5 separate regions of the Homo sapiens genome follow, and regions 2, 3, 4 and 5 are each linked to region 1. Evidence: fine-mapped expression QTL. A gene starts in region 1. Each other region holds a variant in brackets. All regions are shown on one strand. Distances are from middle to middle.

What was found. PIP is the estimated chance that this variant, and not a neighbour inherited with it, causes the effect.
Region 2: its variant is fine-mapped to the expression of PLA2G4C in pancreas (GTEx, PIP 0.94).
Region 3: its variant is fine-mapped to the expression of PLA2G4C in sun-exposed skin (GTEx, PIP 0.97). The same link has a PIP of 0.9 or more in sigmoid colon and unexposed skin.
Region 4: its variant is fine-mapped to the expression of PLA2G4C in lymphoblastoid cells (TwinsUK, PIP 0.95).
Region 5: its variant is fine-mapped to the expression of PLA2G4C in sun-exposed skin (GTEx, PIP 0.92).

The regions. Positions count from the first base shown.
Region 1 is chr19:48,107,703-48,114,366 of GRCh38, forward strand. It overlaps PLA2G4C (phospholipase A2 group IVC), which reads right to left and starts at 3,115. Exons shown (of 17, transcript NM_003706.3): 1 at 2,785-3,115. RefSeq lists an enhancer at 2,931-3,090.
Region 2 is chr19:48,181,922-48,188,585 of GRCh38, forward strand. ZSWIM9 (zinc finger SWIM-type containing 9) reads left to right here. Exons shown (of 4, transcript NM_199341.4): 3 at 534-846. Among named protein-coding and RNA genes, the nearest start is that of ZSWIM9, 15 kb to the left of the region's middle. RefSeq lists an enhancer at 4,822-4,881 and a silencer at 6,475-6,664. The variant C/G (reference allele first, on the strand shown) is at 3,190.
Region 3 is chr19:48,145,438-48,151,269 of GRCh38, forward strand. LIG1 (DNA ligase 1) reads right to left here. Exons shown (of 28, transcript NM_000234.3): 7 at 5,795-5,832; 8 at 4,651-4,773; 9 at 4,326-4,404. It overlaps LIG1-AS1 (LIG1 antisense RNA 1), which reads left to right and starts at 420. Exons shown (of 3, transcript XR_007067281.1): 1 at 420-445; 2 at 531-681. The variant T/TG (reference allele first, on the strand shown) is at 3,230.
Region 4 is chr19:48,225,532-48,230,531 of GRCh38, forward strand. It overlaps CARD8 (caspase recruitment domain family member 8), which reads right to left. Exons shown (of 14, transcript NM_001184900.3): 10 at 4,907-5,000. Among named protein-coding and RNA genes, the nearest start is that of CARD8-AS1, 28 kb to the right of the region's middle. The variant A/C (reference allele first, on the strand shown) is at 2,663.
Region 5 is chr19:48,217,767-48,222,766 of GRCh38, forward strand. CARD8 (caspase recruitment domain family member 8) reads right to left here. Exons shown (of 14, transcript NM_001184900.3): 11 at 3,964-4,089; 12 at 1,105-1,246. Among named protein-coding and RNA genes, the nearest start is that of CARD8-AS1, 35 kb to the right of the region's middle. The variant G/A (reference allele first, on the strand shown) is at 2,975.

The DNA of each region.
Region 1 (6,664 bases):
GGCCTGACCATCTCCCTGTGATGCTGTGCTTCAGTGGTCACACTCCTGTTTCACTTTCCTGTTCCACTCTGTATACCTGGCTGCACCCTCTAGATAGCAGTAGCAGAATTAGTGAAAGTATTAAAATATTAAAGTCTTTGATCTTTCTGAAAAGAACATAAAAGAAATAATGACATAAGCTATCCTCTCTCTCTACGCCTTGGCTACCTAACATAGAAGGGCTCCCTGTCCAGTGGACACGTGACTCACATGACCTTATCAATCATTGGAGATGACTCACACTCCTTACTCTGCCCCTTATTATCCAATAAATAACAGCGCAGCCAGGCATTTGGGGCCACTATCGGTCTCTGCGTCTTGGTGGTAGTGGTCCCCCAGGCCCAGCTGTCTTTTCTTCTATCTCTTTGTCTTGTGTTTTTATTTCTACGATCTCTCGTCTCCGCACATGGGGAGAAAGACCCACAGACCCTGCAGGGCTGGTCCCTACAGTGGCGCAATCATAGCTCACTGCAGCCTCCAACTCTTGGGCTCAAGCAATCCTCCTGCCTTGGCCTCCTGGGTTGCTGGGACTACAGGCATGCACCACCACGTCTGGCAAAGTTTTAATTTTTTTGTAGAGATTGAGGTCTCACTATGTTGCCCAGGCTGGTCTCATTCTCCCGGGCTCATGCAATCCTCCTGCCTCAGCCTCCCAAGAAGTGGGGATTACAGGTGTTAGCTACCACACCCCACTAAAAAGCTGAGTTCTGTGTTTCACGACAGTGATATTATTTATAGAAGTAGCTGGGGAAGTTATAAATCATGCGACCCCTGGTTACGTGACTCTGGAGCACATATAGAAAAGGAAGCTAAGGGATGGCAGGTCATTCTTCAACCCACGACTGTTCTTTAGCAAAGTTCCAGCACCTTCATGATTCTAACCTTGTCTTATGAATGTGACTTCAGGCCAGGCACAGTGGCTCATGGCTGTAATCCCAGCACCTTAAGAGGCCGAGGTGGGAGGATCACTTGAGGTCAGGAGTTGGAGACCAGCCTGGCCAACATGGTGAAACCTTATCTCTACTAAAAGTACAAAAGTCACCTGGGCATGATGGCGGGCGCCTGTAATCCCAGCTACTCAGGAGGCTGAGGGAGGAGAATCACTTGAACTCAGGAGGTGGAGGTGCCAGTGAGCAGAGATCATGCCATTGCACTCCAGTCTGGGCAACAAGAGTGAAACTCTGTCTCAAAACTAAATAAATAAATAAAAAGTAAATGAATGTGGCTTCAATCTCTCAACAAGGACTGGGGGTCAGTTTTCTTTGTCTCAAAGTTTAACTATGAATTAAATTCCTCTCATGGTAATTTTGGCCTCTGCACTAGAATAAGAAAAAAAAATCTAGCCTGTGAGGTTAGAAACAAGATGGTCAGTCATGTTAGCTTTCTCTCATTACTTACATTTCTGCGAAGGCAGTTTCAAGACCCCCCTTATGAAATTAATCAGCTTCCCCCCACCACCTCCAAATTCATATGTTGGACTTGTAACCCCCAGAACCTCAGAATGTGACTGTATTTGGACATAGGATTCTTTTTCGTTGTTTGCTTTTTGAGACAGGGTCTTGCTTTGTCACCCAGGCTGGAGTGCAGTGGTGTGATCGTGGCTCACTGCAGCCTCAGCCTCCTGGGCTCAAGCGAGCCTCTCACCTCAGCCTCCCGAGTAGCTGGAAGTGCAGGTACATGCTACCATCTCCAGCTAAATTTTTTATGTTTTGTAGAGATCAGGTCTTGTTATGTCACCCAGGCTGGTCTTGAACTCCTAGGCTCAAGAGAGCTTTCCACCTTGGCTTCCCAAAACGCTGGGATTATAGGCATGAGTCATCGCACTCGGCCAGACATAGGCTCTTAAAGGGGTGACTAAGTTAAAGTGGGGTCCTGAGGGTGGCCTGGAATTTGGTTTGATTGGTTTATTTTATTTTATTTTTTTTTGAGATGGAGTCTCGCTTTGTGCCCTAGGCTGGAGTGCAGTGGCGCAGTCTCGGCTCACTGCAAGCTCCGCCTTCCGGGCTCACGCCATTCTCCTGCCTCAGCCTCCGGAGTAGCTGGGACTACAGGCGCCCGCCACCACGCCCAGCTAATTTTTTGTATTTTTAGTTGAGACGGGGTTTCACTGTGTTAGCCAGGATGATCTCGATCTCCTGACCTCAGGATCCGCCCGCCTCGTCTTCCCAAAGGGCTGGGATTACAGGCGTGAGCCACCGCGCCCAGCCTGATTGGTTTTATAAGGAGAGATTAGGGCCTCTGCAAGAGGCTTCAGGAGAAACCAACCCTGCCAACACCTTGATCTTGGACTTCTAGCTTCCAGAAGTGTTAGAAAATAAATTCCTAGCCGGGCGCGGTGGCTCACGCCTGTAATCCCAGCACTTTGGAAGGCCGAGTGGGGTGGATCACGAGTTCAGGAGTTTGAGACCAGCCTGGCCAACATGGTGAAACCCCATCTCTACTAAAAATACAAAAATTAGCCGGGTGTGGTGGTGTGCGCCTGTAATCCCAGCTACTCGGGAGGTTGAGGCAGGAGAATCGCTTGAACCCCGGAGGCGGAGCTTGCCGTGAGCCGAGATCGCGTCACTGCACTCCAGCCTAGGCGACAGAGCGAGATGCTGTCTCAAAAAAAAATAAATAAATAAATAAAATAAAATAAAATAAAAAAGAAAAAGAAATCCTGTTATTTAATTGCACCCAATCCCTGGTACTTGGTTATGGCCGCCCCAGCGGGATGAAACAGCCCTCCCTGCCCCCACGGCTTGCCTGAGCCTGGGTCTGGGGCGTGTGCGCATGCGCGGTGGAGCTTGTGCTCCGGAATCCGGTGCGGAGGCTTGGGCTCCCTGCGCTTAGCGGTGTAGTCGCTGGACAGCTCCTTCAGCCGGAATCTCCGCGGGTGAAGACTGCGGGGATCCTCGGTGCCAAAGCTTCTGTGGTCCTCCTGCTTTCCTTTTCCCCCTGTGGGAGGAGGTCGCGGGCTGGAGGTGTTTCCTCCTGGTCCTGAGCAGGGCCAACCTGGAGGTAAAATGGCCCCTGCGCCTTTAAACAGCCCTCCTCGGCTTGTAGGCCCTGCTTGGTTGCTCCAGCTTTTTCAGCTGTTCCAGAGCTCACCCGGAGCTATTTTCATCCGTGGGATCACGTGGAGGGCTGGGACTTTCCAGGCTTCCTTAGTGATGTCACCCTTCTGTCATTAGGCACCCGAGACCAGTATTCAAAAAAAGAATGTTGTCGTTATATAACTATATTGGAGATAAGTATTCCTCAAAACAGATTAGCTAATCCTCCTATGCATCTGGCTGTCTAATAACCATCATATATAATATCATACTCAAATACCCAGAAAAAGAAATATTGAGGCCAGGCGTGGTGGCTTACGCCTGTAATCCTAGCACTTTGGGAGGCTGAGGCAGGCGGATCATGTGAAGTCAGGAGTTCGAGACCAGCCTGGCCAACATGGTGAAACACCTTCTCTACTAAAAATACAAAAATTAGCTCGGTATGGTGGCGTGTGCCTGTAATCCCAGCTACTACTCGGGAGGCTGAGGCAGGTGCTTCATCCTGGGAGGTGGAGGTTGCAGTGAGCCAGATCCTTAGGGCCAACTCTGGTTCATTTAATGTCCATTTTTAGAAAACCTGTGAGCTCCATTCACAGTGAAGGTTTGAAGCCCAGAAGTGGCCTCCCAACAGGGTACCACATTTCCCAGCACCTTTGCAGCTAGGTGTGGTCATGTGAGCGAGTTATGTGGTCATGTGACCGAGTTCCAGTCAGTGCAATCGGGCATCTGTGGGGAGCACCGCTTCCAAGAGTGGCTCCTAGAAACCTCCCATACTACCCTCCTGCCTACTCTTCCTGAAGCCCAGCACTAAGCGTCATCCCAACTCGATGGGTTTTGAATTTTTTTTTTTTTTTTTTGAGATGGAGTCTTACTCTTTGTCGCCCAGGCTGGTGTGCAGTGGTGCAATCTCGGCTCACTGCAACCTCCGTCTCCTGGGTTCAAGCGATTCTCCTACCTCAGCCTCCCGAGTAGCTGGGAACATAGGCATCTGCCACCACGCCCGGCTAATTATTTTTGTATTTTTAGTAGAGACAGGGTTTCACCATGTTGGCCAGGCTGGCTCGAACTGCTGAACTCAAGTGATCCACCTGCCTCGGCTTCCCAAAGTGCTGGGATTACAGTTGCGAGCCACCGCACCCAGCTTGAATTCTTATTTTTTAAAAATAGATATGAGGCCATAATCCTAGCACTTTGGGAGGCCAAGGCAGGAGTATCACCAATTTTAGAACAGGATTTCACCAGGGGGAAGATGGTCTCCCCTGCTCCCCCTAACGCCAGGCTCACCTCTTCAGTGCCCGCAACTCCAACCATCGCAGGATCTTTTCACTCCTAGACCTGACCATGCCACTGCCCCGCCTGCGGGATAAGGTTCTACACCTCGCAGGAGCTCATGAGGCTCTCCACAGTATAGTTAGTAGTTATAGATGCAGGGTCAAGGAGCTGACAGCATGGACCAAACCCTGGCCCACCACTTCCTAGATAGTGGACCTAGGGAAGGTAACTTACATCCCTGTGCCCCTCAGTGTCCTCACCTGTTAAATGGGGAGAATAAAAGTACCTACCTGGTGGAGCCATCATGAGGGTCACTGAGGAGTGAGGATGACCCTGACTAGCTTCAGCAGAGGGACATGGCGGCCGTGTGTGGCAGATGTGTTCCTGGGGCCCTGCACTGGTGCAGGGAGGAAGAGCCAAGCCCAAAGGAACCATGGTCTCCACACAAAGCCAGTAATGTGGGGATCCCCTGACATACAACATTTACTTTTTTTTTTTGCCTTAAACATTTTATTTGAAATTGAAACACAAATGCACACTAATTTGCCAGTTCTTTAAGGCAGAGCTGTATCAGGAACTCTTAGCTATGAGAAACAAGTCTTTTTTTTTTTTTTTTTTTTTTTTGAGACGGAGTTTTGCTCTTGTTGCCCAGGCTGGAGTGCAATGGCTCGATCTCGGCTCACTGCAACCTCCTCCTCCCGGGTTCAAGCGATTCTCCTGCCTCAACCTCCTGAGTAGCTGGGAGTAACAGGCATGTGCCACTACGCCCGGCTAATTTTGTATTTTTAGTGGAGACGGGGTTTCTCCATGTTGGTCAGGCTGGTCTTGAACTCCCGACCTCAGGTGATCTGCCCGCCTCGGCCTCCCGAAGTGCTGGGATGACAGGCATGAGCCACTGTGCCCGGCTGAAAGCCATGTTTTAGAGTGGCATAATCGCCCTGGGGCTTATTCTTCCCCTACTCCCATGAACAAAAGCCCACAGTTAGGCAGCTGCTGCCCTAGGTTCGCCGGTTTAGGGTCGTCAGGAGAGTTTGTTACTCTTTTTCCTCATCATTACAAGGTGGTGACTTGGCTCCAGCCATCATCTCTAGTCAAGGCAGGAGGAGGGGAGGAGCTGCCACAACCAGGGCTGTCCTTTTTGGTCAGGAAAGATGTTTCTCCAGAAGTCCCCAGCAGCCCCTGTGCTTATGTCCCCTGGGTCTGCCCACACAGGGCTACAGGGCCACTGCTAGCCCCAAGGAGACTCGGAAGGCAATGTTGTCTTCTTGGGCTACAACAAATAGAAACAGAATGCCCAAGAGATTGTGTGCACAAGAGACCATGATGGAGACACAGGAAGAGAGACAGGGAGGCTGAGTCACAGTGACAGACAGCAAAGTAAGCCTGGCACAGACTTGCACGGCAGAGAGCAAAGCCTCGCAGATAGAGAAGGAAGGGGAGAGAGGGCGGGTGGGAGACAAGGGCAGAGGAACCTGATGAGAGAGAAGGGAAGGAGGGAGGGCAGATGTGAGAGGCAGAAACAGAGTGTGAGGGGCAGGGGACAGCTGGGAGCCCTGTGTCCCCCCTGCGGGAGTATCAGGACACCCTGACACTCTCATGCCCGGAAGCTCCTGTTCCACGCTGGGCCCCGGGGTTAGAGGCCTCCTGCTCTGGAAGACCCGAGCCTGGGCCCCGCTCCGCGTGCAGCCGTTTTCCCCAAGCCAGCCCCGTGGTGCCCAGGGCTGGGTGGGTGTTCCAGGCATCCTGCTTGCCTTGTCTGACCATTTCCCGATGGTTTTCCTCTAACATATCATCCCATGTGGGGTGGCTGCAATAATAACAGCCCCCATAGATATCCAGGTCTTAATCGCTGAAACCTTTGATGTGACCTATTTTTTTTTTTTTTTTGAGATGGAGTCTCGCTCTGTCGCCCAGGCTGGAATGCAGTGGCACGATCTCGGGTCACTGCAACCTGTCTCCCAGATTCAAGTGATCCTCCTGCCTCACCCCACTAGTAGCTGGGATTACAGGCACGCGCCACCATGCCCAGCTAATTTTTGTATTTTTAGTAGAGACGGGGTTTTGCCATGTTGGCCAGGCTGGTCTCGAACTCCTGACCTCAGGTGATCCACCTGCCTCAGCCTCCCAAAGTGCTGGGATTACATGCGTGAGCCACCGCGCCTGGCCCTTTTACATTTTTATTAATTTTATTAATAAAATTAGAGGAGATGAAGTCTGGCTGTGTTGGACAAGCTAGTCTTGAACTCCTGGCTTCAAGTGATCCTCCCACCTCAGCCTCCCCAAGTCCTCCCCAAGGCGTGAGCCACTGTGCCTGGCCT
Region 2 (6,664 bases), 74 kb after region 1:
CTAATAGATAATTTTGATAGTGGCTGCCTCTGGGGACAGAGGGAAGGAAGATAATCTGTTAGGGCAGCGTTCACAGAAGGCCTCAACTTTTGATGTTATTGCTAAACCAGAAGCAGATACAGGACTATCTGAAATTTTTTATTTCTAAAAAAAGTTAAGGTAAATACAATAAAACATTCACTCACTTTTGACAGAACTAAGGGTGGTAGGTATAGAATTTTAGTGAACACTTACTGCTTGCCATATTCCAGACACTGTGTAGGTGCTTTACCTATATTAACTCTTTTCATGCTCATGACGATCCTATGAGGAAGGTATGATGAGTAGGACCTTCCTTGTAACCTATGAGGAAACTGAGGCATAGAGACTTGAAGTGACTTGCCCCAGGTCACACAGCTGGCATATTCTTAGGGCCCTCTACTCTTCTCTATGCCTGAAACAATTCTTAGTTTAAAAAAAAAAAAAAGGTGAGTGGAAAGGAAGAAGAGGGCAGCAGAGTGATGTGACCAGGGCGGTGGTGGTTCCTCCCACAGGCCTCCCCAGCCCGGCTGCCCCGCCTTCATCATCGTCAAGCTGAGCCCGCTGCGGGACCGCCTCGTGGTGACGGAGTGCCAGCTGACCCACTCACACCCGGCCTGCCCGCTGGAGTTCGCCTACTACTTCCGCCCGGGCCACCTGCTGGCCAACGCCTGCCTGCCGGTGCGCACCACCAACAAGATCTCCAAGCAGTTCGTGGCCCCAGCCGACGTGCGCCGCCTGCTGTCCTACTGCAAGGGCCGCGACCACGGCGTCCTGGACGCCCTGCACGTGCTCGAGGGCCTCTTCCGCACCGACCCCGAGGCCAAGGTGGGGTCTCGAGAGAGGCAGGCCGGGGGAGGGGGCGGGGGAAAGCCGCGCTGAAGACTCGTGGGTCATTCATGCCTTCATCCGCCCTCTCATCCCTTCACTCCTTTCCTCCATTCATCCGTTCATTCATTCAATAAGTACTTACCGAGGCATTGGGGATGCAGCAGCAAACCAGACCCACGTGGTCTCTGTCCGCAGAGAGCTTACCTTCTAGGGTAGTGCTGCCCAGTAGAACTTTCTTCCAGGATGGAAACGTTCTGTGATTCTGCACCCCCAGCCACAAGTGGCTACTGAGCACTTGAAATGTGTCCAGTACACTGAGGAACTGAATTAATTAATTAATTAATTAATTTTTTTGAGACGGAGTCTCACTCTGTCACCCAGGCTGGAGTGCTCTATCACCCAGGCTGGAGTGCAGTGGTGCGATCTGGGTTCACTGCAACCTCCGCCTCCCGGGTTCAAGCGATTCTCCTGTCTCAGCCTTCCGAGTACCTGGGACTACAGGGCGTGCCACCACGCCGGCTAATTTTTTTGTATTTTTAGTAGAGACGGGGTTTCACCATGTTAGCCAGGATGGTCTCGATCTCCTGACCTTGTGATCCGCCCGCCTCGGCCTCCCAAAGTGCTAGGATTACAGGCGAGAGCCACCACGCCCGGCCTGAATTTATTCTAATTAATTGAAATTTAAATAGCCACCTATGGCTATTGGCTGCCTTGCAGAGGTAACTGCCAGAACGCCCCTGCAGTTCTGGCGGGAAAAACCAACAACTGACAAACATGTCCAAATATGATGTAACATCACTAGGGGCTGGCTGGGTGCTAGCAAGAAGGGGAGCCACAGTGATGACAAATGCTATGTAAGTTTTTTTTTTTTAATCTTTTTTTTTTTTGAGACAGGATCTCACTGTCACCCAGGCTGAGTGCAGTGGTGCAGTCATGGCTCACTGCACCCTCGATGTCCCAGGCTCAAGCAATCCTCCCACCTCATTCTCCCGAGCAGCTGGGACAACAGGCGTGCACCACCACACCCAGCTAATTTTTTAGTTTTTGTAGAGATGTTTGGCGGGGGGGGGTCTCCCTATGTTGCCCAGGCTAGTCTTGAACTCCCAGACTGAAGCAGTCCTGCTTCGGCCTCCCAAAGTGCTGGGATTACAGGCATGAGCCACCACGCCAGGCCTACTTAAATTTTTTTTTTTTTAATTGAACTGCACAAACAGAAAATGCACAAATGATAAATACTTAGTTTGATGAATGTTCTCAAGGGGAGAACACACCTGAACCCACCATGCAGATGGAGAATTAGGAGAAGGAAGAGTGCTATGTCCTGTAATGTGATGGAGCGATAAGTTATCATCAAGGAGAAAAAGGCCGGGGCCTGGAGCGGGACAGTTCTAAGGGTGCTGTTTGAATTGGTCAGGGAAGGTCTCTTTAGCAAATGATGGTGAAGCAGAGGAGATGGAACAGAGGCAAGGGACCCTCATTCTGTCATCAGAGGGAAGAGAATTCTAGGCAGAAGGAACAGCCAGTGCAAAGGCCCAGAGGCACGAGCAAGCTTGTGTTGGAGGAACAGTGAGGATGGCTGCTGCTCCATAAGGAATCTCTGCGGCTTTAATCCAACTTCAAGTTTGGGGTGAACTTGAAGTTTAAAGAGGAAAGAAAGATGAGAAAGTAGGGGAAGAACTGGTTTCTCCTCCTGGCTGTGCCTTTGTCTCCCTTGTGTGTGGAAGAGGTCCCAAGGCAGGGTAAAGTCGAGATTCAGCTCTGGCACACTCTTCCTGTCTTCATCTCATGCCCAGTAAGAAGCCCTGATTCAAGCCACCAGCCCAAGCCCAGGCCTCTGTCCCGACATAATAATAATTTTAGCTAATGTTTATCAAGCACTTACTATATGCCAGGCACTACCCTAAGTGCTTTACATACTATAACTCATTTTCATCTCACCTGAGCCCTATGAGGAAATAGTCCACCATTCTCATCCCCATTTTACAGACAAGGAAACTGAAGCACAGAGAAGTCAAGTAACTGGCTCAAAGTCACACAGCTATTTAGTGACAGAGCTGGGCTTCGGACCCACACAGCCTGGATCCAGACCCATGACCTTCACCATGGGGACAAACACACATGCACTTCCTACTCCACTGGTCTTTGCTGATCTAGTAACTCTCCTCCACTACCCACCATGACATAAATAAGCCTCAGCTGTTCTTCCCTGAACCCACCCTCTGCAGGATTGTCCCTGTGCAGAACAGCTCATTCATAGATCAGAGCCTTCCCTGGAAGGGGAGTTGTCTTTTCATTTTGAAGGCTGTCTTGGAATCTCGGCTAAACCACGGTTGGCTCCTG[C/G]GTCTGTGTTTTGACCTGCTTTCATACTTTTTTTTTTTTTTTTTTTGAGACGGAGTTTCGCTCTTGTCACCCAGGCTGGAGTGCAATGGCGGAATCTTGGCTCACCGCAACCTCCGCCTCCCGGGTTCAAACGATTCTCCTGCCTCAGCCTCCTGAGTAGCTGGGATTACAGGCATGCGCCACCATGCTAATTTTTGTGTTTTTAGAAGAGACGGGGTTTCTCCATGTTGGTCAGGCTGGTCTTGAACTCCTGACCTCAGGTGATCCCCCCGCCTTGGCCTCCCAAAGTGCTGGGATTACAGGCATGAGCCACCGTGCCCAGCCCCTTAATGCTCTTGAAAGAAAGGAGGAAGAAGTTCTAGGACAGGAGAGACAGATTAGTGAAGCAACATTTAAATATTTACTTTTTGAATATGTCATACATTCACATGGTTCTAAAAAAGGTATGTGGTGAAAAGTCTTATCACATCCTGTCCCCCAGGTCCCCTCCCCTGCAGAGTTATTAGCAGCTTATAAATCATATCTCGCTTTCTATCCTATGGACCAGCACTGCCCGGTGGAACTTTCTACAATGATAGAAATGTTCCTTATCCAGGCTAGGCATGGTTACTCACACCTGTAATCCCAGCACTTTGGGACTCTGAGGCAGATGGATCACCTGATGGCAGGAGTTCGAGACCAGCATGGCCAACATGGCAAAACCTGATCTCTACTAAAAATTCAAAATTAGCCAGGCATGGTGGCAGGTGCCTGTAATCTCAGCTACTCGGGAGGCTGAGGCACAAGAATCGCTTGAACCCAGGAGGCAGAGGTTGCAGTGAGCTGAGATTATGCCACTGTACTCTGGCCTAGGTAACAGAGTGACACTCTTGTCTAAAAAAATAAAAAGAAAGAAAATGGTTCTTATCTGTACTGTCCAATCCAGAGGCCACTGGCCACACATGGCTACAGAATGCTTAATGAGGCCAGTATGACTGAGGAACTGAATTTGTCATTTAATTTATCGAAATGTAAACAACCTAATGTAGCTAGTGGCTTCTGGATTGGACAGCGCAGCTCTGCACATATACAGGTCAATTTGCATGTCTGTATGTTTAACTTTAATTTTTAACTTTATTTCCTCTTTCTGCCCCGCCACCCCCCACCCCCAGCAAGCAGGGCAGCCTAGTGTACACGCTGTTTTTGTTTGTTTGTTTGTTTGTTCTTTGAGACAGGGTTTCACTCCTGTCACCCAGGCTGGAGTGCAGTGGCACGCTGTTGGCTCACTATAACCTCCACCTCCTGGGCTCAAGTGATTCTCCTGCCTCAGCCTCCTGAGTAACTGGGACTATAGGCATGCACCACCATGCCTGGCTAATTTTTGTATTTTTAGTAGAGACGAGGTTTCACCATGTTGGCCAAGCTGGTCTCAAACTCCTGACCTCAAGTGATCCACTCACCTTGGCCTCCTGAAGTGCTGGGATTACAGGTCGGGGCCACCACACCCGGCCTGTACATGCTGTTTTGCATCTTGCTTTATACGTTGGGGAGTGCCAGATGTCACCATCTTTCGTTCTTCCTCTGGGGCTGGTCAAATCCCCCTGAGAAAACTCCTCTGGCCTCCTGGCGGGGGGTGAAGGCCAGGCTGCCAGGGCCAGGCTGCCAGCTTCTGGGAGCTGCAGGGGCAGAGGCAGGGAGCTGTCAGGCATTCAGCCAGCAAGACGCACTCAGTACCCACTTGGGGTTCAGAATCCCCCTCCCTCATCTTCAGATGGGCCAGATGTCCCCAAAGCCAGCGGCCCCTTTCTGTTTCACCCTGTCTACAGAATAAACCCCCAGTCACTGGGGGTGGGGGAAGAGTAAGGGGAGAGGGGAAACGAGATTTGGAGGTCTAGCTGCTGCTGAAACAGCCCTCAGTTCGTCTTTATTTTGCCTTCTGCAAAACTGGCCTGGTGTTGCCAGCTCCTTTTGAGGACTTTGCTACCGGTTCTCAGCATCCCTCAATTGCTGGCTTAGGATTCATGGGTTTTTAGGGGTGGGGTGGGATTAGCATGTCCAGCTGCTTTCCAGTTTCCAAAGTTCTGTCCCTATCATATTGCCTCTGATTTAAAAAAAAAAAAAAGCCATTTTAAAAAAAAGATGTAATTGAGGTTCAAGAGAGAGTGAAACTAGAGAGGTGTTCAATCCATCACTTTTACACAGAAATTTCACCTTTTTTTCACTTATAAAATCTAATGAAAGAGTTCTATATTATTATGTTAATAATACAGTAGTAATATAACAGTATAATGTAATAATTAATATATTATATTAATTATATATTATAATTATATATTATATTATATTATATATATTATATATTATATATTAATTATATATATTATATATATTATATATTATATTATAATATATTATATTATATTATATATATTATATATTATATTATTATTATATTATATTATATATATTATATATAATATTATATATATTATATATTATATAATATAATATTATATATTATATTAATATTATAATATGTAACGCATAACATGTAATATTGATAATATAATAGGTGCGATGGCTCACACCTGTAATCTCAGCACTTTGGGAGGCCGAAGCGAGAGGATCACTTGAGCCCAGGAGTTCAAGACCAGCCTGGCCAACATAACGAGCACCTGTCTCTACAAAAAATTAAAAAAAAAAAAATTAGGCATGGTGGCATGCATCTGTAGTCCCAGCTACTCAAGAGGCTGAGGCACGAGGGTTGCTTGAGCCCAGGAGCTTCAGGCTGCAGTAAGCTATGATCACACCACTGTACTCCAGCCTTGACAACAGAGTGAGACCCTTTAAATAGATAGATAGATAGATAGATAGATAGATAGATAGATAGATAGATAGACAGACAGACAGCAAGCTTTAAATTTTCATCCCAAGCCTAGGTCAAGCAACAATCAGTCTTTCCACTTCCCAGCAGTCTTCCAAAGGAAGGATTATTTGTAAAAAGTGCCTGCACTTCCTGAGTTGGGTTGCTCTCTTGATCTTTGGAGGGGATCAGACAAGAAGGATGCGCCCAAAGCCACAAGGCATGATTTAAGGGCAAGACTGGGGGGCGACTTCACCCAGGGAGGTGTTAATACCTTTTTTTTTTTTTGAGATGGAGTCTCGCTCTGTCTCCCAGGCTGGAGTGCAGTGGCGCAATCTTGGCTCAGCACGACCTCCATCTCCCAGGTTCAGGTGATTCTTGTGCCTCAGCCTCTTGAGTAGCTGGGACTACAGGCGTGCGCCACCAGGCCTGGCTAATTTTGTGTGTGTGTGTTTTAGTAGAGATGGGGTTTCATCATGTTGGCCAGAATGGTCTCGATCTCCTGGCCTGGTGATCTGCCTGCCTCGGCCTCCCAAAGTGCTGGGATTACAGGCGTGAGCCACCGCACCCAACCTTTAACACCTTTTATCACCTGCCCTGCCTGATGATGATGGGCTTTGGGGTCCAGTCACA
Region 3 (5,832 bases), 37 kb after region 1:
GAACAATGAGGACTCCCCAGCCCCAGGCCTACATCTGTACCAAAATGGGGACAAGGGTTGGGGGGGAGAAAGAGACCTCAGGATATTTTTCAGCTCTTCAGCTGATTCTGATGCTCACACAGGGCATGGATGGCCAAGACAGATAGTGCCACTGCAGGGCTGTGCATGGCCTTTGGTATGAACTTGGGGTTTAACAAGCGGTGGCCGGCATTACAATGAGGCAGCAGAGTGTGGTGGGCAGGGGAGTCTAGAGCCAGTCAGCCTGGCTAGAACCACAATGCTGCCACTCCCCACCTGTGTGGCCTGAGCATGGCATTAAAAACAAATAAGAATAGTAGCAGCAGTTACCGTGACAACATGCTGGTCATAATCAAGGCCAGACCCTGGGCTAAGTGTTTCACATCCTCAGAAGAGAGACACAGAAAGGCTAAGTCACTTCCTCAAGGTCACACAGCTGAGAGAGGTGGAGCTGGGATTCCTAGCCAGTCCTCAATACTGTCCCACCTCCCCGCTTTACTTTTCTCACCCAGGAAACCAGGATAACAACAGAATCTACTCCCAGCAGTGTTGTGAGGATTTGGAGCATTGCGTCAGGGAAAGCCCGTTGCTGAGTGCCTGGCACGTGGGGAAGAGTGGGTGGAAGAACATGCTTCCTCTCATCACTGTGCCCCCATCTGAGAGGTGAGGAAATTGGAGAGTGGGAAAGTTTGCCTGTCTCTTGGAGGCAGCCATTGGAGACAGAGGGGAAGTGACCAGGCTAGGAATGGTGCAAGAAAAGCAGTCATGCCTGGCGTGGTGGCTCACGCCTGTAATCCCAGCACTTTGGGAGGCCGAGGCAGGCAGATCACTGAGGTCGGGAGTTTGAGACCAACCTGGCCAACATGGAGAAATTAAAGGGGTTTGGAATAATCCCTGCTGTTCAGCAGAAAGGACAGGTGGGTTAAAAAGTATGACGCAGTGAGTCCAAAATCTCTTTGATGTCATGCCTCTACAAATGAAACAGATAACGACAAGAAATTCTTTCAGCTTTAACATTTCATGATTAAAGTTTAAGTCTAACAAAAAAGTGTCTGTCTCTATTAAAAATACAAAAGTAGCCGGGCATGGTGGCGCATGCCTGTAATCCCAGCTACCTGGGAGGCTGAGGCAGGAGAATCACTTGAACCCGGGAGGTGGAGGTCGCGGTGAGCTGAAATCGTGCCACTGCACTCCAGCCTGGGCAGCAAGAGCAAAACTCCGTCTCAAAAGAAAGAAAAGCAGTCGTAGTATCACTTGAAATAGAAAACAGAACTTTATATACAGTAGGACACTGATTTTATTTGGAAAACATATTTATAAATACACAAACACGGACACACACTCAGGAGGCACGATATGGCAATGGGGAAGAAATAACTGCTAGGAATCAAAAACATTCCTTAGGGTCCCAGGCCTGGCCCTACCCCCACCTCCCTGTGTGACCTGGCGAGGCCCGACCTAACCTCTCTGGGCTAATCATGTCAATGTGTGTAAAATGGCTAAAGTGCTCCCTTCCTCCACAGGAATACTGCAGAGAGGACGTTAACGTGCTATTTAACCTCCTTGATAAGGTCTCAATTGGGGGTACAAAATTGATGTCAAGAATCCTCCGAACACTTTTTTGTTAGACTTAAACTGTAATCATGAAATGTTAAAGCTGAAAGAATTTCTTGTCGTTATCTGTTTCATTTGTAGAGGCGTGACATCAAAGAGATTTTGGACTCACTGCGTCATACTTTTTAACCCACCTGTCCTTTCTGCTGAACAGCAGGGATTATTCCAAACCCCTTTTCCGTTAATTTTTTTTTAGCTTTCAGGACATCAAGAATTCAAGAGGGGATGAAGTCCACGCTGCTAACACCATCACATTGTATTTGAAAACACAATCTTTAGAGGAAAAAAATAACTTCAGATGGATATATGATTATGTAAGAAATCAGGCTGGCCGTGGTGGCTCATGCATGTAATTCCAGCATTCTGGGAGGCTGAGGTGGGAGGATCACTTGAGTCCAGGAGCTCGACCTGGGCAATGTAGTAGGACCCCATCTCTACAAAAAGTAAACAAAAATTAGCCCGGCATGGTGGTACATGCCTGTAGTTCCAGCTACTTGAGAGGCTGAGGTGGGAGGATCCCGAGCCCAGGAGCACCACTGCACTCCAGCCTGGGTAACAGAGCAAGACCCTGTCTTTAAAAAAAAAAACAAGAAACAAAAAACAAAAAACCCAAAAAACCTAAGTTCTATAAAGAGGAATTTTTGTCTGATTTGTTTCCTACCAGATCTCAGGCACCTAAAATCCAGTAGCTAACACGTAATCAGTCCTTTGTAAATACTTACTGAGTAAATAAATGAGTCCATGATTGACTAGTGAAAAAAAAAAATCTGAAAGTGCTCATTTAAATTTCTTTCATGGCAGATTTCCTGGGCTTCCTAGGGGCCAGCCCCAGTGCTGGGAGCTAGGCAAGAAGACTAAGAAGGCTGGGACCTCCCACAGCCCTGGCTCTGTGGGAAGGAGCTTATGTCTGGTTAGGGAGGCTCTTTACCATGTGACAAGACATAAAAGACAGTCTGACTCAAGTGCTGGGGACACGCACCTCCTCTCACACATGAAGGGAGAGGCACCCGGCTTCCCTAAGCAGGTGCAATAGGAGTTGGGGCCTGAGGGAAGCCTGCTGGGCAGGGTGGGTTAGGGACAGTGTTGTAGGCCGGGGTCAAGCATGTTCAGAAGCAGGGAGGAGGCTGGGTGTGGTGGCTCACGCCTGTAATCCCAGCACTTTGAGAGGCTGAGGCGGCCAGAACACCTGAGATTAGGAGTTCGAGACCAGCCTGGCCAACATGGTGAAACCCGGTCTCTACTAAAAATACAAAAATTAGCCAGGCTTGGTGGCGAGGCACCTGTAATTCTGGCTACTTGGGATGTGGAGGCAGAAGAATCGCTTGAACCTGGGAAGTTGAAGGTGCAATGAGCTGAGATCGTGCCACTGCACTCCAGCCTGGGCAACAGAGTGAGATTCCATCTCAAAAAAAAAAAAAAAAAGCAGGGAGGAATGACAGCACGTGGGGACATGGTGTGCAGAGGGAGCAGGAAAAGGCTGCAGATGCCAGGAGGCTGCAATGTAAGGTGGACAGGGCTGGCTCATGAGGGCACTGGGAAGCCCAGCATATCCTCTATGCTGGGGAGAATCGCAGATGGGTTTTGAGCATGGCAGAGA[T/TG]GGGGGGGTGACCTCATTACTTTATAGGATATTTATCCACCCACGCATCCAATCATCCATTCAGCCAGTCTTCAGTGCGGCCTCCTGTGTGCATGTTAGATGTCGTGGGAATCAGCCCAGACATCTCTTCAAATAATTAACAAAATTACAGTGAAGCAATTAATTGCTTAACAACCTATTCAGTGTCCCACAGCCCCAGCACACTAAGCACATCACGAGGGCTGGGGCAGGGCGGCCGGCTCTCTATGGTTCATCCTCGTGGGCCGCCCAGGGCTGGCAAAGAAGGGGTGTTCAGTGAATTTTAAGGCAGAGTAGACGCGCCTGCAGGCTTCCAGCACATACACTAAATCTGGTGAGTTCAGGCCAGGTGTACTGGCTCACGCCTGTAATCCCAGCACTTTGGGAGGCCGAGGTGGGTGGGTCACCTGAGGCTAGGAGTTCAAGACCAGCCTGACCAATACGGTGAAACTGTGTCTCTACTGAAAATACAAAAATTATCTGGGTGTGGTGGCATGCACCTGTAATCCCAGCTACCTGGGAGAATCGCTTGAACCTGGGAGGTGGAGGCTGTGGTGAGCTGAGACAGCACCACTGCACTGCAGGCTAGGCGACAGAGCAAGACTCTGTCTCAAAAATAAAAAATCTGGTGAGTTCAGAGCCAGAGGAACAGAGAGGTAGGAAGTGAGGCCAGAGAGGGAGGTGGCAGCCAGTGGCCAAATGGGCTTAGATTTTCTCCTGACGGCTCTGGGGAACCCTAGAGGGGCAGAGTCAACTCTGGGTGTTAGAAAGATCCCCCAGGCTCTACGGGGATCAGACTGAGGATGAAAGACTGGAGGCAGGGTCAGAGGGTGGCTGGGGCCACGGTCAGCAAACTCCGACCCTGGACCGTTTCTACAGGTTCTGGGATCTAAGAATGGTTTTGCAACAGGGGCCAAATGTGTCCCATAAAGCCTAAAATATTTACTCTCTGGCTCTTTATAGAAAAGGTTTGCCAAGTCCTGCAAGAGGAGGAAGCCTGAGCTGGGGGTGGGGCTGTCGGAATGCAGAGAAGGGAACACATCCCGAAGAACCTTTCCAGACCTGGACACTGACTCACCCCTCAGCAGCTCCCTCCTTTCCTGGAGCCCCTGGCTCCTCTTCCTTCACTTCTTTTTTGACTGCTGGCTTCCGGGGGGCTAGGAATGAAGACAGAAAACAGTGGGTCTTTTCTCCTTCCGGTAGCCCCCACCTCCCATCCATTCTGCACCCAGCACCACCCCAGTGCTCAGGGAGATGGGAGACAGGCTGGTAGAGACAAGGCCGACTTTCCAACCAGCAGGAAAGGAAGAAGGGTCTTCGCAGCATCTCAGGCCTCTGGAGAGAGGCTCACCAGCCTCCTGCCTGTACAACCCCGGGAGGTGGGGTGAGCAAGGGAAACTCACTGAAGAAGCTGCTGAGCGTCTTGGGAGCTCTGCGGGGAGGCTTGGTCTGCTCTTCCTCCTCCTGCAGTTCCTGCTTCGTGGCCACCTCAGGCTCTGAAACGCTTTCCGTCGGGGTCTCTGCTTCTGCGGTGAGAGAGCTCAGACGGTGATGCAAACTCTTTGACCCTGAGACTTTTTTTTTCTTTTTTTTTACCCCCAAGATCATTCTGACCCTGCAGATGGAAGATATAACTACACCTACCCTTTTCCTTTCTGTTAGCTTTGAGCTGAGATCTCAGGCCTGCTGTCTACTCCTCAGTGCTAACTAGCGGAATTCTAGCACTTGGCCTGAAATAGGAGACTTAGGAATAGTGGTAAAAAGAAATCTCATCGTCATGAGAAGAAAATATTCCCACTCCTCCCAGCAGCTGCAGAAAATCAGATACAACTCTGTATCCCTAAAATTCTCCCGGCAAGTGTTGTTTCTAACACAGGGGCCTCATGGACACTTGGACCACCCTGAGAGGGTAACTTCAGCCTCTAAAATCCTGTAACTCAGTTTGGTTGTCTAACTTAATTAATAACATTTAATTTACACCTATGACTTCTGAAAGCTATGAATACTTTTTATCTTTTACTTTGTCTGAGGCGGGGGAGTTCTTGCTCTGTGGCCAAGGCTGGAGTGCAGTGGTGCGACCATAGGTCACTGCAACCTCCACCTCCTGGGCTCAAGCGATCCTCCCACCTCAGCCTCCCAAGTAGCTGGAACTACAGGTACGTGCCACCACACCCAGGTCATTTTTGTATTTTTTTTGGTAGAAATGGGGTTTCGCCATGTTGCCCAGGCTGGTCTTGAACTCCTGGGCTCAAGTAGTCCACCCACCTCAGCCTCCCAAAGAGCTAGGATTACAGGTGTGAGGCACCGTACCCGGCCTAGGAAGATTTTTTAAAGAATGGCTGGCTCTTTCCTCCTTTCCCACATGCATGGGGAAAAATAATAATTAAAAAAAAAAACCCGAGTAATAAAAACTATTATTCTTCTAGATTCGGCATTTAAGCAATAAGTTTGAGAATCTATGCCTTGTTTAAATTAATCATCCTCCAAAGACTTCTGACCCCAAAATCAGGAGGTGGGGCAGGGCGGAGGAGAGGACCAGAAACTCACTGGAGGTCTTTAGGGGCTTGGGAGGCGTGGTGGGCTGG
Region 4 (5,000 bases), 120 kb after region 1:
GCCTACTAAAGGCTTTCGGAAGCAGAAATCTTTAGGCAAAGACTAGAAAGAGACTAGAAAGATGAGCAGGAGCCAGTCTTGCAAGGGAAACACAAAGGGTAAGAGCCCAGAAGCAGGAATTCTTGGAGTATTTGAGGGATGAAAATTCAGGACAGAAGTGCTGGAACATAATGAGTGAGAAGAGAGTGATAGGAGATGGATAACTGAGATGTTCTAGGGTCACAAGAAGTCATGGCTTCAGCTGGGCACAGTGGCTCACACCTGTAATCTCAGCACTTTGGGAGGCTGAGGCGGGTGGATCACCTGAGGTCAGGAGTTCAAGACCAGCCTGACCAATATGGTGAAACCGTGTCTCTACTAAAAATACGAAAATTAGCCGGGCATGGTGGCGTGCGCCTATAGTCCCAGCTACTCAGGAGGCTGAGACAGGAGAATTGTTTGAACCTGGGAGACGGAGGTTGCAGTGAGCTGAGATCACGCCCACTGCACTCCAGCCTGGGGGACACAGCAAGACTCCGTCTCAAAAAAAAAAAAAAAAAAAGCCATGGCCTCTAGGCCATAGTAAATTATTTGATTCATGTTCTAAGTGTAACGTGAATCCATTAAAGAATCTTTGGCCAAAGTGTGATGTAGTAATGTATTTTTTAAGTGTATTAGAATTAAAAAATTTTAATTTTTTTTCTTTCCAACATTTATTTTATTTATTGATTTATTTAAGACAGAGTTTCGTTCTGTTGCCTGGAGTGCAGTGGCAAAATCTTGGCTCACTGCAACCTCTGCCTCCTGGGTTCAAGCAATTCTCATGCCTCCACCTCCCAAGTAGCTGGGATTACAGGCATGTGCCATCACATCCAGCTAATTTTTTGTATTTTTAGTACAGATGGGGTTTCACCATATTGGCCAGGCTGGTCTCGAACTCCTGGCCTCAAGTGATCTGCTTGCCTCGGCCTCCCAAAGTGCTGAGATTATAGGCATGAGCCACCATGCCCAGCCCCATCATTTATTTTAGGTTCAAGAAGTACATGTGCAGATTTGTTGTATGGGCCAATTGCATGTAATGGGGGTATTACTTATTTTGCAAAAAATCTCCCTGTTCCTAGATTTTAAAAATAGGTGGTAAATGAAAAACAATGGAACCAGTGAGATAAGCTTGAAGACTTTATCCATATTTCTAGCAAAAATGGCAGTGGATGGCACTAAAGCTGGCAGTGAAGCTGAACGGAGTAAAACTGGTTCAAGTTATGCTATGAAAATGAAAAGAATCAAAATTGATGAGATGCTGGATGTGGGAAAGAAAAGAAATCGAGGCCGAGGGGGGCAGATCACTTGAGGTCAAGAGTTCAAGACCAGCCTGGCAAACACGGTGAACCCTGTCTCTACTAAAAAATAAATACATAAATAAAATAAAAAAATACAAATAGCTGGGCGTGGTGGCAGACACCATAATCCCGGTGAGGCATGAGAATCACTTCACTTGAACCTGGGAGGCAGAGGTTGCAGTGAGCTGAGATTGCACCACTGCACTCCAGCCTGGTGACACAGCAAGACTCCGTCTCAAAAAAAAAAAAAAAGAAAGAAAAGAAAATAAGTGGAGGAATTAAAGATGAACACTAGAGTATGGCTTGAATGACTCAATGAAATTTAGTCTCTACCCTGAATGGGGAAGAGAGTTGAATAAATCGCTTAAAGGGAGAAAGTTGAGTCAATATATACAATTAGATATGCCAAATAAACACTCATATGGAGAGGGGAGGTTGGCGGTTCCAAGTTGGAGCTCTGGAGAATGTTCAGGACTGGAGATATAGACTGAGAAATCCTCTGCTTGTGGGGAATTCAGTTACGAGACGAAGAATTCATCAAGTCCGTCAGTGAAGACAGAAAAGAGAAAGGAGAGTCCAAGATTCAGCCCTGGAAACTCAATATTCAGAGAAGGTTTCAGAGCAAGAACCTGCAGAGGCGATTTGAGGAGAGACTCAGAAAAGTCACGGAGATGCCAGGAGCAGTGGTCCATGCTTGTAATCCCAACACTTTGGGAGGCCAAGGCGGGCAGATCACAAGGTCAGGAGTTCAAGACCAGCCTGTCCAACACTGTGAAACCCCATCTCTATTAAAAATACAAGAATTAGCCAGGTGTGGTGGTGTGTGCCTGTAATCCCAACTACTCAGGAGACTGAGGCAGGAGAATCACTTGAACCCAGGAAGCAGAGGTTGCAGTGGGCCGAGATCACACCACTGCACTCCAGCCTGGGTGAGAGGGCTAGACTCCATCACAAAAAAAAAAAAAAGGAAAGAAAAGAAAAGTCACAGGGAAATTGGGATAATATGGTGTCGCAGGATCATATAGAGCAGAGATCCCCAACACCCGGGCCGCAGACCAGTACCAGTGTGTGAGCTGTTAGGAATCGGGCTGCACAGCAGGAGAGGAGCAGTGAGGGAGCAAACCTTCATCTGTATTTACAGCCACTCCCCATCACTCACATTACCGCCTGAGCTCCTCCTGTCAGATCAGCAGTGGCATCAGATTCTCATACGAGCGTGAACCCTGCTGTGAACTGCCCATGCAAGGGATCTAGGTTGCACGCCCTTTATGAGAATCTAATGCCTGATGATCTGTAAGTGTCTCCCATTACCCCCAGATGGAACCATCTAGCTGCAGAAAAAG[A/C]AGCTCAGGGCTCCCACTGATTTTACATTATGGTGAGTTGTGTAATTATTTCATCATATATTACAATGTAATAATAATCGAAATAAAGTGCACAATAACTTTAATGTGCTTGAATCATCCCAAAACCATTCACCACCCTGGTCTGTGGAAAAATGGTCTTCTGCAAAACTACTTCCTGGTGCCTAAAAGGTTGGGAACTGCTGTTATAGAAGAGTGTTTCCAAGGAAGAGCGTGGTCAGTGGAATAGCATTCCACTGAGACCCCAGGTAAGAATGAGTTGACACAAAGTCACTGACTGGGTGACGCTAAACAGAGCCATTCTAAGGAAGGGTGGCAAGGTCATCCACACAGAGAGATCTGGGAACAGAGTGAGAACTGAGGAATATGGAGACTTCGGGTACATGGAGCTGTTGATCCATTCATTGAGAAGCATAAGGGAAAAATTGGAAGTATGACTGCAGGAGGGAGAGCAGTCAAGGACAGCATTTCCAATGTGGGGGCCATTCTAGATTTTGGCGGGTGGAAGGGAGTGATGCCCTAGGGTAGGAGAGATTGACGGTGGAGGGGAAAGAGGATGCCTCGGGTGTGGCTCCCACATAAGGGAAGAGGGAAAGGGACCCAAGACTCATGTTAAGTAGTGTCCTTGTGTACGAAGAGGGAGGCGGCCGGGCGCGGTGGCTCATGCCTGTAATCCCAGAACTTCGGGAGGCTGAGGTGGGTGCATCACTTTAGGTCAGGAGTTCAAGGCTAGCCTGGCCAACATGGTGAAACCTCACCTCTACTGAAAATACAAAAATTACCAGGACGTGGTGGCACACATCCGTAATCCCAGCTACTCGGGAGGCTGAGGCAGGAGAATCGCTTGAACCCGGGAGGCGGAGGTTTCAGTGAGCCGCAATTGCCACTGCATTCTAGCCTGGGCAACAGAACAAGACTCTGTCTCAAAAAAGAAAAAAAGAAAAGAAAAGAAAAAGAACAAGGAGGCTTCTTGGGTTTCAGAGGAAAGAAATAGGTGAAGACGGGCCAGAAACAGGCTCACAGAGCTGACAGTGAAACAATGAGGTTTTTCCATCCCATTTTGTTTCTAGTATATCAATAAGGTATGAAGCAAGTAAGCATATGAGATTTGGGAATGATGAAAGAAGAGGCACTAAGTGAAGGATAGGAAAAGGGTGGGCTCAGAATGAAAACAGAAGTTATGCAAGAATTCACTGGAATGTATGTATTTCTGGCCCACTCTAGGAATAGTCATCTTTATCATTCAGATTAAAATGTTTTCTCCTGTATTTAAGTACCCACAGTTACTCACCACCCTAAGTCCTGACAGGCAGGCACCTGCCTCTCATTCTTGGGATGTTGGAGCATTAGACGGGGGGACGATACAATTTAATGTAATCTTTCTGGCATAATCGCCCCACCTAGGCTGGAAGGACAGAAGTGGGACTTTATCCAGGTGCACAGCAGCTACAGCAACCAGCACGTCTGCTTCATCACTAACTCAGAAGAGAGTGTGGGAATATGAGCCTTTAATAAGTGCATTAGAGGGAGATGCTACTGAACAGGAGGAGGGTTACTCCAGAGATGTGAGTGTGCCTGTCAGTGTAATTCACATATTATCCATTTAAAATTTGGTGAGAGGCCAGGGGTGGTGGCTCACGCCTGTAATCCCAACACTTCGGGAGGCCAAGGCAGGTGGATCACCTGAGGTCAGGAGTTCAAAACCAGCCTGGCCAACATGGTGAAACCCCGTCTCTACTACAAATACAAAAATTAGCCAGGCATAGTGGCGGGCACCTGCAATCCCAGCTACTCAAGAGGCTGAGGCAGGAGAATCGCTTGAACCCGAGAAGTGGATGTTGCAGTGAGCCAAGATTGCGCCAGTTCACTCCAGCCTGGGTGACAGAGTAAGACTCTGTCTCTAAAAAAAGAAAAAAACAACCTGGTGAAAAAATCTCTGCATCTTCTCTGTCAGCTGGTCCCCCAAAATCACTAACTTTCTCCTTCTTGAGAGCCAGAAAAGGGAATTTCCTTTTTCAGTAGCACTGAATCACTACTGAAGATGGTTAGGGAAGCACATAGCTCCAGAGTCAGCACCTTGGATGAACCTCAGGAAGGGTGACTCCTGCTTCTGTCCATGAAAACCATGCCTTGCCCTTTCTGTTCCACGAGGAACTGGAGGGGCCAAGGGGATAACCTGGAAATATAATCGTCATCTTCTCTGGTCTCCTAAATCACTCAGCTTACCTTTGTTAGCAAGGCGTCGCTGGGGACAAGGTACAAGTGGAACTTAATATCTTCGGGGTGGGGGTGATAATAGATCAATGTGTTGGAAGTGATG
Region 5 (5,000 bases), 110 kb after region 1:
TATAAATGTATCTCCAGAGATTCAAGGAACTATCAGGAGATCTTTGGCAAATTGTCTGGGAGTTTCTAAACTTTAAAAAATTGTGTTTATGATGTTGAGCTTCTGTGAATGGATAAAACATTTTCCAGAACTTTTTAACAGATTACCTCAGGGAATATGACACCCCGAAAATGAAAAGCATGAGTATGGAAGAAATGATTAAATTGTGAAGAAAGTGGAACTAAATAGTCCTTATGTTTCTTCTGACTCTTAGAATCTTCTGTTCTTTACCCCCTAGGTTCGAGGGTTTCCACCCCTCTCCCAGGCCCCTTGAGCATTTCACTTCCTAGAGATGAACAAATGCCACCATTGTTGTGTTATCACACTGATAATACACTGACAATAGATTTCTCTTTTTTTTTTCTTTTTTGGCAAGAACATTTTATTTTATTCAAACTATTTTTTTTAATTTAATTTAAGTTCTGGGATACATGTGGAGGACATGCAGGTTTGTTACAAAGGTAAACATGTGCCATGGTGGTTTGCTGCACCTATCAAATCATCACCTAGATATTAAGCCCTGCACGCATTAGCTATTTATCTTCTTCTTTTTTTTTTTTTTTTTTTTTCAGATGGAGTTTCGCTCTTATTGCCCAGGCTGGACTGCTGTGGCACAATCTTGGCTCACTGCAACCCCCTCCTGGGTTCAGGTGATTCTCCTGCCTCAGCCTCCCACGTAGCCAGGACTACAGGCATGTACCACCACACCTGGCTAATTTTGTATGTTTAGTAGAGACAGGGTTTCACCATGTTGAGCAGGCTGGTCTCGAACTCCCGACCTTAGGTGATCCTCCCCCCTCGGCCTCCCAAAGTTCTGGGTTTACAGGCATGAGGCACCGTATCTGGCCTTTTAGCTATTTATCTAGATGTTCTCCCTTCCCACATCACCCAAAAGGCCCCAGTGTGTGTTGTTCCCCTCCCTGTGTCCATGTGTTTTAACACTGACAATAGATTTCTTTTCTTCTCTGGGAAAGAACCATAAACAAGATTTCTTCTTTGAAATCCAAGGATAGAGGTACATGATGGATCCCTGTCTAAAAATGCCAGCCTCGCCCACTCACCTACCTGGCTTCACCTCAGTATCCCACACCAAAGTCCCATGTCTTTTTTCAGTAATCTCAAGTTGAATGGGTTCCTTCATCTGCCCAGCATAGAATTTTGAGAAGTGCTGAATTTCTCCAGGGCTCCTGTAGGACAATTTCAACTCCTAGAGGAAACACATCAGTTGACTTGAAGCAGTGGAGGGTGGAAAGGCCCGGCTCCCTACAGTGAACTGGCCAATGGAACTTAACCCGTTTCCTGTGCAATGTCATGGCTGGTTGAGTGGGAAACAGAGGGAGAGAGGTAAACAGCTCTTTACATTTACAATGTTAGGAAATGCTTTTATACCAGGAAGGGAAGAATAACCTAGCTGTCAACACCACATGAGTCAGAGAAAAACTATCTGAGCTACCAACTGAATACAAACGTCTTAGATTTTGAGGGTTTTGAGGCCCCTCATTAATGATGCGACCAGCTCAGAATCCGAGATTCTATAGAGAAGCAAGAAAGCTTCCAAAGCAGCCCCATCAGGTCTCTCTGAGCCTCGCTGGGAAGCCGGGGTCAGATAAGCCATTTCAGGTCCCTCTCTGTTTTGCACCCAGTCTCCCCAGGATTCCTAAAAAAAGCTGCCCTGGGGAGCAAGAAAGCCCCTTATGCAGGACAGAATTAGGAAAAGCTTAGCTCATGCAAATCTCTAGTTTCTTCAGAAAACAAGCCCCCCGACCCAGCTCTTGGAAAATAGGGATTTAAAAAATTACAAAGGGTGAGATTGTTGGCTGGAATCTTTTTAAATGGAAGATGACTCTGAGGAGAGTTTACCTCGCTCAAGATCATCACCTCTAGGGCGGGCGCGGTGACTCACACCTGTAGTCCCAGCACTTTGGGAGACTGAGGTGACCGATTGCTTGAGGTCAGGAGCTCAAGACCAGCCTGGCCAATATGTTGAAACCCCCATCTCTACTAAAAATACAACAATTAGCCAGGCGTGGTGGCAGGTGCCTGTAGTCCCAGCTACTCAGGAGGCTGAGGCAGGAGAATCGCTTGAACCCAGGGAAAGAAGGTTGCAGTGAGCAGACATTGCGCCACTGCACTCCAGCCTGGGCGACAGAGTAAGACTCTGTCTCAAAAAAAGATTATCACCTCAGGTTGCAATTGCCACTTCTTATCTCACATTTACTATGTTGTATCATTCTGGATGAAATACCCTGCATTTTATTTATTTATTTCTATATCAGCAATGTTTATGGAAGGTTCTGCAACAGCCAAGAATGTATCTTGCCTGAAGGACAACCAAACTTCTGGGGAAGGCAGTCCCTGCTTCATATTAATTGCTGTGGAGTTTATCAAGGAAACTGGGAACTAAAATCAGAGCAAGGTTGGGCACTTTATTAAATTCTTATGCTCTAGTATACTTAGAAAAAGATCACTGAACTGATGTCTGCAATAAGCTTCACATCTTGTTGTCTATATGGCTGGAAAAATCATTTTTCCTATTTTAGCCTTAGTGTCCAAAAAGGAGACATGTAAATACTGACACCTAACCCTCTTGTTTCTCACCTCTTCCAAGGTCCGCAAACAGGAAAAAGCCATCTACGCCAAAACAATAACATTGGTCCGTCCCATTCTGAATTAAAGACCTTGAAATCACTGGGATGTGTTTTCCCATTAAAACTGGAAAACAATTAAATCTTGATACTTTGTTCTAGAGATGGTATATTGTGCTGGACAACCTCATCTTTATTTTAGAGAACATATGCTGTGAGACATCTTTGAAAATCTATTTGGGGCCAGGTGTGGTGGCTCGAGCCTGTAATCTCAGCACTTTGGGAGGCCAAGGTGGGCAGATCACGAGGTCAGGAGTTCGAGACCAGCCTGGCCAACATGGTGAAACCCC[G/A]TCTCTACTAAAAATAAAAAATCAGCCGGGAGTGGTGGTGCATGCCTGTAATCCCAGTTACTCAGGAGGCTGAGGCAGGAGAATCACTTGAACCTGGGAGGCGGCGGTTGTAGTGGGCCAAGACCACACCACTGCACTCCAGCTTGGGCAACAGAGCGAGACTCCATCAAAAAAGAAGGAAAGAAAGAGAGAAAGAGGGAAAGAAAGGAAAGGAAAGGAAGGAAGGAAGGAAGGAAGGAAGGAAGGAAGGAAGGAAAGAAAGAAAGAAAAAGAAAGAAAGAAAGAGAGAAAGAGGGAAAAAAGAAAGAGGAAGGAAGGAAGGAAGGAAATCTATTTGGAAATATACTAGCTTTAAGTTGGTTAATACTCTTTGAATCAGTAATTTCATTTAGGACACTCTAGCCCTGCAGGAAAAATGTAAAACCATATGAATGGAAAGACTTCTTGCCAGGGCACTTCTTGGGAGAAATTACATGCGACTAAATGTTGAATAATCATGAAATAATGAAAAAAGCTCTAGGGATTTCGCTACATGGCATATCATGTCCCAGTAAATCTGTATGTAGGAATAATTTAAATTGCACAGAATTATATAGTAATCTCCATTTAAAAATATATAAAATGAAATATATAACATAAAATCAGCTCTTCCTTCAACTACCTTAACAAATACATATTAAGTGCGTTAGTTAGGCAAGACATCAGGACTGAAGATAATTATAACAGGGAAATGGAAATTTCAGTTTGGGAAACTCAATGTGTAGTTTTAACCTAACATAAGTATGTCAAATACTAAAATGTTACCTCTGCCTTAGGGTCTTGGAAATATGCAATATGATTAATACTATTTTTCTATAATTTCAATTTTTTTAAAGGGCATATTTGTGATTAATAAAAGAAAAATGTTGCATTTTGCTAAGATTCTTCCATTTGTTTCAGAAATATAAAACACTCTGAAACCTGCTGAGTTGGGTTTGAATTCTACTAACCTTGGGCATTACTTTCAGGTTAGCAGAATTAGACACAATATAACTGGAACCAAAGTTCAGGGGTTCCATTGGGGGCGAAGTCTGCAGGCGCACACCATGGAAGCGATCTTCCTCATCATCTATCGCCTAAGGAAGAAGGGGCAGAAACATTAGAGAGCACAAAAAATAGTAAAGCAAGTAGTGGCATAAAAAGTTATTTATATGGTATATTAAGTAGCACGTAGGCTATGATTCAATTGATATAAAGATTAAGGTATTCAACTGATATAAAGATTGTGATAGGTAGATACACAGATATGAATGAATATGTCTCTATGCACAAAGAGACATATTGATGAAATTTTACTGAAAGATATCTCAGGGCCAAAGGATTTCTTGTGAATGTGAACTTATAAATTCTTGTATAGTTTGCTTTTATTTTTACACTGTGGAAAGATTGGCTGCGTACTTATGAAAGCACAGGACAGAAGGACTTCTTTTTGGTGCCTCAGCAGAGAACTGGTAGCTCAGCTGTGTCTGTGAACACGTCTATGATGGACAAGGGTAGAGATGTTACTTCTCTCCGTCACAGGGCTGCTGTGAGATGCTCAATCACCTGACCACCAGCGAGCAGAAACAGTCACCTCTGCGAGGCCCAGCAGCCACAGCAGAAAGCGAGACCTCAAAACTATCTCTAAGCAGCCAGGCACGGTGGTTCACACCTGTAATCCTAGCGCTTTGGGAGGCCGAGGTGGGCAGATCACAAGGTCAGGAGTTTGAGACCAGCGTGGCCAGCATGGCGAAACCCCGTCTCTACTAAAAATATAAAAATTAGCCGGGCGTGGTGGCGGGCGCCTGTAATCCCAGCTACTCTGGAGGCTGAGGCAGGAGAATCACTTGAACCCAGGAGGCAGAGATTGCAGTGAGCCGAGATTGCGCCACTGCATTCCAGCCTGGGCGACAGAGCGAGACTCTGTCTCACCAAAAAAAAAAAAAATCTATCTGAGCAGCCATCAAAGACACAGAATGGAATTCAAACAAAACCTTTCTACCTTTGG